Linked DNA regions of Homo sapiens. The protein of the gene in region 2 interacts with the protein of the main gene of each other region in a biochemical or structural test. Each region holds a gene or a part of one and is shown on either strand. Other genes may lie near its edges.

Region 1 (3,604 bases), on a different chromosome or scaffold from region 2:
TGGAGAAGAGAGTCGATCATCTCAGCAAATTCTCAAAGGGAAAAGCCAAGATCTTAGAAAGTGTGTGGCTTCAGGGGGTTTGTGGCTAGATGAAAGTTCTCCCTGGCAAAAGCATCTGTGAAAAGCAGCTGTAAGCCAGGGCACTGAAAGAGACCCAGGTCTGCCTTTTTCTTCGTGTTGACCAAGGCCCTTGGTCCAAGCCTCATGTGGTTGGTGGCCTCCTTTATCCTTGAGAGATGGAGCTCTAGGCCCATCTCAGAACAGTCAGCCCACCCATTTAGTAACTGTTCTCTGCTGCCCAGTCTGTGCCCACTCTACCCTCTGGCTGCTGATAGCCCAAGGAGGAAGACTGGGCATAGTCTGAGACACAGATAGTACACTTTGGGGATATGGGGACTCTAGTGCTTCTGGCTGGGCCCTTCACTGAGGCCCGCTAGATGTGTTTAAGCCAAGCCTGGGCATTTGAGAAGGCCCAGGGCCTAGGACCTGCAGAGTGTCACCGGGAGTACCTGCTGGTTTGACCACTGTGGCTCTCTGGTAGCATAAGAGGTCAGGGGTACCTTGCCTTCCTCCTTCAGGCCAGGGGCAGCTGAGGATCCCTACCCATGGCCCTGACGATCCTCTTTTTTCTCCTGCCCTCTAGGCCGATACAAAGCAGGGGAAAAGGAGCCAGATCCCAAGACGTGGAAGGCCAACTTTCGCTGTGCCATGAACTCCCTGCCAGATATCGAGGAGGTGAAAGACCAGAGCAGGAACAAGGGCAGCTCAGCTGTGCGAGTGTACCGGATGCTTCCACCTCTCACCAAGAACCAGAGAAAAGGTATCCAAGGACTCTGGGTCCTTGGGAAGCCCTCAGGGAGGGAGGGTAGAAGGAGGTCAGCTGGGGCTGGAGAGCCTGCACCAAGGCTGACAGCCCGTCTGCCCCACAGAAAGAAAGTCGAAGTCCAGCCGAGATGCTAAGAGCAAGGCCAAGAGGAAGGTGAGTGTGGTCCTAAGCAGCCAGGCCTTTGGTCACCTGTGGGCCAGGGTGAGCAGTGGAAGAAATGCTAAGGTGGGCCTGGGCCTAAGCTGCTTTCTCCCTCGACAGTCATGTGGGGATTCCAGCCCTGATACCTTCTCTGATGGACTCAGCAGCTCCACTCTGCCTGATGACCACAGCAGCTACACAGTTCCAGGCTACATGCAGGACTTGGAGGTGGAGCAGGCCCTGACTCCAGGTGAGCTGGTCCAGGTCTGGCAGGAGACCCCACAGGTCAGTGGGATGACTCTTTCTCTTGGAGGCATGGTGCTGGCACATGGTGGCCCATTAGTGCAGGCTGCAGGGTTGGTCGGAGGGCGCTCGATGTCTTGCAAACTAAGAAAGCACACAACCTTGACCTGTGGCTTCTGCTGTTCCCCAGCACTGTCGCCATGTGCTGTCAGCAGCACTCTCCCCGACTGGCACATCCCAGTGGAAGTTGTGCCGGACAGCACCAGTGATCTGTACAACTTCCAGGTGTCACCCATGCCCTCCACCTCTGAAGGTTGGTGCTCCTGGGGCCTGGCCTGCCTGCTTGACTGTCTGGGTCCTGTGAAGGGCTTCCTGAGAGAGAAAAGATGATCAGAACTCCACCTGGCACTGAATTGATTGAGTTGGGCATTGCCCAGTCTTAGCCACCATAGGGGGAGGCAAGCGACGGGGACACTAGGAAGGCAGTTCAGAGTGGGCTGCAGTACAGTGGGGGCTGGTGAGAGGAGGGAAGGGGGCCAGGGGCTGCATTTTGGGGTGCTGGTTCTCCTTCCTCCTCTGTAGCCCAGCATCTGAGGGTGAGGAAGGAAGTAGGGTAGGGGTGGGAAGCGGCGTGGCTTCAGGGTTTGAGAGGCTGAGTCACCAGGCCAGGGTCCTGTTCTGGAATCTCTATGGCAGATAGGTCCACCGGGAGGGTGTGTGTGTGTGTGTGTGTGTCAGAGAGACAGAGAGACAGAGAAAGGGCAGGGGGATCTGGTGGGCTGGAACTGGAACTGCAGGGTGAGTGTGGCTGACTGCCAGCCAACCTCTCTGCTTTCCCCATCCACAGCTACAACAGATGAGGATGAGGAAGGGAAATTACCTGAGGACATCATGAAGGTAAAGCCCCTTCCTACCTGGGCACTCTTGAAGTGACCGTTTCTCAGTGAGGAGAGAGAACCAGTGAAGCTTCCAAATCAGAGGATGGGTAGCTGCTGTTGTCACCTGGCTGCTTGCATTGTCCCACAAGTGCCACATTCACGTGGCTTGACTGGTGGGAAAGCCACCATGGGAAGGGAAGGCAGGTGGGAGGCCTGGCCTCTGACAGGCCGTCCTGAAGCAAGCCTTGGGGCATCAGACAGCTCTGTGAGTCAGGCACTATCAGCGATGGGTCCCTGGCCTGCATCCTCTGCCCCAACATGCCCCAGCCCTGCTAGTTCGGGAAATGCACATCAGGCTTCAATAATCAGCCTTTAGGATCCGTTAATATGATGATGGCTTTATAGAAAAAGTTAGCAAATTATCCTCCAGGTTTTTTTTTCTGCTTCAGTTTTGAAAGTGAATATAGTTTTTGCAGCCGGGGGCAGTGGCTCATGCCTGTAATCCCAGCACTTTGGAAGGCGAAGGTGGGTGGATCACCTGAGGTCAGGAGTTTGAGACCAGCCTGACTAACATGGTGAAACCCATCTCTACCAAAAATATAAAAATTAGCTGGGCCTGGTGGCGCATGCCTGTAATCCCAGCTACTCTGAAGGCTGAGGCAGGAGAATCGCTTGAACCTGAGAGGCGGAGGTTGCAGTGAGCTGAGATTGTGTCATTGCACTCCAGCCTGGGCAACAAGAGCAAAACTCCATTTCAAAAAAAAGTTTTTGCAGTAGTTGTACGCCAGCTGTTCCATTAGCCCAAAAAATTGAGACATGGATGTCGTTCCTTATCTCTAGCTTTTCTAGTCATCTTTTCTTGATTTATTATGCTAACCTTTGTTTTAAGCCACATTCCCTCTTACTATGTCCTTACACAGTTGAGAGGGAAGTCGTGGAGATGCTATACCAGAGAGTGGGTGTGAGAGGGGTGGGAAAATGAATTGAGGACCAGTGCCAACATGCATTTCTGCCTCCTCCCTCCCGGGCCCTTGTCCTGACTGCAGTGCACTTCTGCATCCTATCTGAGATTGTGAAAATGGCCAAGGGTGTGATACTGGCTGAGAGGAGCTGGCTCATTGAGGGCAGGGCCACAGGGTGAGTCTGCACTGGAAGGGAGTTGATAGCCTCTTGCTCTTCTGTCCCCAGCTCTTGGAGCAGTCGGAGTGGCAGCCAACAAACGTGGATGGGAAGGGGTACCTACTCAATGAACCTGGAGTCCAGCCCACCTCTGTCTATGGAGACTTTAGCTGTAAGGAGGAGCCAGAAATTGACAGCCCAGGGGGTAAGAAGGCCCTGGATCCTTATGGCTTCTTAGATGAGGGAGAACCACGTAGGGATGGAGAAAGCTTGGGGGCAGGGCCAGGGAGCAGGGCGGTAAAGCATCTGGGGTACTGACACATTGTGAATTAGCTACGGCTGCCATGCCTTAAGGTTTGCCTGAAGCTGAGTGGATGTTTACTGCTGTGCTGGGAAG
Region 2 (4,044 bases):
CATAGTTAATACACATGAATTGCATTTCCACTGATGTATTATCAGATTGGAAGGGATTTTGGTTGACATTTGTAATTGAGTTTGATACGGTAACACAGGGGCAAAGTTGGTTTGGTCAGCTTTGAAGCATGCAAAACCAAACTCGCCTGTCATCTAAACTGACGCAGTGTGGGGCCACCTTCTCCTATTAAGTGCAGTCCTCAGGGGATAGATGGATATCCTCATTTGTTAAAAGTTATATATAATGCTTTTGCAAAAAGCAGTTTTTAAAATGATGTGTCTGTCTTGAGTGTTAAATTACTTGTTTTAGTTTTGTAAATAGTGGTACAATGCTGGGGCCTTGTATGATTGGAGTGTTTTTGTTGAAGTTGGGGATAGTGTGGTCCCCGCTTTCCTAAATTTATTGATGGTTTGGTCTTATTTAAAGCAAATCTTAAGTGTATATCCAAGCTAAAATAATATTGACTCTGGTACATTTTAAATGAAAAAGCACATTATTCTCCCCTGTTAATCTATTTTTGGAATGTGATATTACTAGACTGCCATAAAGAAGAATAACCCCAGGAAGTACCTTCGCAGTGTAGGAGATGGAGAGACTGTGGAGTTTGATGTTGTTGAAGGAGAAAAGGTGAGGATGCTTTTTGTGTAAAGGTTTGACTTCAGTATGGAAATATTTTGGAGGTCTCATCCATTAGGATGGTGGCTCTAATGTGGATGGATGTGTTCAGGTGACCTCATGAACACAGGTGCATCAAGCCTAATGTTCTGGCTGCAGTTAGAGGGCAATCTCTTCAGAACAGTGAGGAACTGATATTTAGTCATTTCTGTGCACCCCTGGTCACGCAGTTGCGCCCCCCCCCCCTTTTTTTTCCTTAACTTTGTTGTTTTTTGCTTTGTTTGAAAATGTTCTGATTTCCTTTTGAAAGTGTTGAAAGTGTTCTGATTTCCTTTGTCACTATCAATATGTAATGGCTTTTGTAGGGTGCGGAGGCAGCAAATGTTACAGGTCCTGGTGGTGTTCCAGTTCAAGGCAGTAAATATGCAGCAGACCGTAACCATTATAGACGCTATCCACGTCGTAGGGGTCCTCCACGCAATTACCAGCAAAATTACCAGAATAGTGAGAGTGGGGAAAAGAACGAGGGATCGGAGAGTGCTCCCGAAGGCCAGGCCCAACAACGCCGGCCCTACCGCAGGCGAAGGTTCCCACCTTACTACATGCGGAGACCCTATGGGCGTCGACCACAGTATTCCAACCCTCCTGTGCAGGGAGAAGTGATGGAGGTAAGTTTCACCATCAACAACAGCAATGTGATAAGTTCTGGTAGGACTGTTTAGAGCTGTTAATTATATGGAAAGCAACTTGGATTCCTAGTAAGAACCAAAAGGATTAATTTATAATGTAGTCACAATTACTAGATGGTCTGTTTTGTTTGTTTTTTAACTCTTGGATTTATCTGGTTGGGTTTTTTTATTATATTACTGACCCAGTAGGCTTAATTTCCATTGTCTTTTTCAGGGTGCTGACAACCAGGGTGCAGGAGAACAAGGTAGACCAGTGAGGCAGAATATGTATCGGGGATATAGACCACGATTCCGCAGGTATGGTCCACGTAAACATGTTTCTATTAAAATTTCCTCAAACCCGTGTTAGGACTCAGCAATATCATGCCTCTCCTGCAGACTCATTTTTCTGTTAACACTTCACGTTTTCTTTCATCAGATGCCTAAGAGGTGAACCTATTAAAAACAGCTTGTATAGATGAGGTCTGCTTTATACATAAATTTTTTTAGAAAATGATGAGGGTTTGGAATTTCAAATTTTCTGTCCTTGAACAGGTAAGATAATATTTTAAACCACACCTTTTAAACCTGCCTCCTTGGTAGGGAGAAAGGAAAGCATTAGGAGTATCTGAATTGTACCATGGCATTAGTGAAGAATCAACAGTGTTATCACTTGAAATGGCATACATTATCTTCCACTAAACACTTCTCAGTTTAGATATGTACCCCCTTTTTTTTGGAGTTGGGAGTTGTCAGCTCAAAGTTGCAAAATGAAATTGCTCCACCAAGAATTTACATTCTGCGGGGGGAAATCCAGTCTGTCGTTAGACAACTATCTACTTGAGTGGGTATTAGAAATCTTATTAATAGATGTCATTATTAGAGTAATCGAGGAAAAATTCCATGAACCAAGCATATTTTAGTCCATGCCGTAGTATACTTTGAGGCAGTGTTCCCAGTCCCACGGTGGTAGGATAGGATGGTGTAATAGTTGTTTCTCTAAGGGTTTGATATCAAAGCATTGAGTTTTCATAGGTGATCCCCAAAAGCTGACAGGTACCTCTGAAGAATCAAACCAATACAGTAATAACGCATCTTAACTGATCACTTAAATCGCAACTTTTAAATCCCCAAATTTTTAAGTGTCAAGTTTATTATTCTAGAAGTATCCAACATATCCAAAATATACTGTGAGTCTATAAGAGGGGGTTTCTGTATATAGGTTTTTAAATTTTACCAAAGTTGGAGCACTTAGTGAAGTTTTAGGAACTAGGGAATCTAGTCGAGGTTGTATTACATGTATTTATCAGCACATGTACATTGAGAGTTTTGCAAGAGCAGCTGATGTCATCATATTTTTTGTATTAATATGTCTTGTCCTGAGTTTTCAGTTAAAAGAGCTGAGGTCCTAACTGATCACTACCACAATTGAAGATCTCTGATTCAGTTTTCTACCAGGAGATTGTGTTAGCCAGATGCTGGATGTTGAAGATAGATGGGTTTTTATTTTTCAGAGTAGGTCTAAAATAGCCTCTCATGGCAGTCCATCTGTTAAGTCCATGGGTTCCAGCAGCAGAATCTTTGGTTTACCTTTTGTTACACTGAAGAGCTTAAATGTTTTGCCTAGTTTCATTGATGTCCTTAAAAATAGCATAATTTTGTGTTTGTATTCAGTGCTTCAGTTCACCGTTGAGTAAATTGTTTGTCTTTATATTGACAAACAAGCTTGCGGTTGATTTGTCTCTTAGAAAGGTATCTTTGTCCATTGTTACCCCTCCAGTGCAGAGGTTTTTGCCTTTTGGTTTAAGTTAGACTTAATGTCTACGTGTTTCAATGTTTAGAATGCTCAGTCCTGCCAGATAGTTGCAGAAGTAACATAAAATTGCTTGGAAGTTATCAATGAATGCTAGACTTTCCAAACTGTGCAGGAATCTTTTGTTCAAATGAGAGTAAATGAAACATGCTGCCCCTAATGCATGGAATGGTGTGAAATTCTGACTGGTGTGGGTTCAAGAGCAAACTGAAAGGGAAATCTTAAGACAGAGTATAGTACAAGTGTTGCTGAAAATGAGACTAATAGTAGTAAGGGGAAAATGGGGGGTCAAAAAGGGAGGTTTTTTGTTGAGAAATAACATTTATAGGCTGAAATGCAATCCAGGATAACAGTTGATGGCAGGAAAGTGACTGCTGGAACTGTTTTCTTTCTCAGAGAGGGTAGGGTTTTGCCCACAGGTGAAAATGTTGACCTTTTGTTAGGAACCTGCCGTTTTCCTGTGTAAGAAACAAGAATACATGGGCACGCATGTGTTAATGGGAAGACATGGAAGCCTTTGGTTGCTAAATTGAGACGAAAGTAAAGAGGAAGTTTGAAAAGTTTGGGGCAAAGAACCCTCTAGAACAGAAAATAGAGATGGTAAATTTATAAGTAATAGGATAACGATCATAAATTAGAAGTGAGTTCACCCAGCTTGACTCTGTGTTTCTAGCCATTTGGGCATCAGGCTCAGGTTGGGCAGAGAGTTGGATTTATCCAGATTTGGTTTATCCAGATCTGGTTTGATTTATCCAGATCTGGTTTATCCAGATGAAGACACTGGGGTAGGGATTGGTCATATGATTAGTGGTAGACTTTATACTTGGATAAAGAGGGGAGAAAAGGGGAAAATGAGGGTTGTTTTTTTTTTTTTAAATTGTTTTGTAGAAATGGAGTTGCACTGTGTTACTCAAGCAGTCTTGAACTCCTGCCCTCAAGTGATCCTC

Evidence for each region. The genes of interacting proteins can lie anywhere in the genome.
Region 1: the proteins of YBX1 (region 2) and IRF1 form a complex in vitro, tested with the Homo sapiens proteins (one study listed by BioGRID).

What each region holds. Positions count from the first base shown.
Region 1 is NC_000005.10:132,484,170-132,487,773, reverse strand, and holds part of IRF1 (interferon regulatory factor 1), read left to right. Parts: intron 1-643; coding exon 644-820; intron 821-929; coding exon 930-979; intron 980-1,087; coding exon 1,088-1,217; intron 1,218-1,400; coding exon 1,401-1,523; intron 1,524-2,057; coding exon 2,058-2,107; intron 2,108-3,276; coding exon 3,277-3,412; intron 3,413-3,604. UniProt on the Homo sapiens protein: Transcriptional regulator which displays a remarkable functional diversity in the regulation of cellular responses.
Region 2 is NC_000001.11:42,695,661-42,699,704, forward strand, and holds part of YBX1 (Y-box-binding protein 1), read left to right. Parts: intron 1-538; coding exon 539-628; intron 629-981; coding exon 982-1,284; intron 1,285-1,519; coding exon 1,520-1,602; intron 1,603-4,044. UniProt on the Homo sapiens protein: DNA- and RNA-binding protein involved in various processes, such as translational repression, RNA stabilization, mRNA splicing, DNA repair and transcription regulation.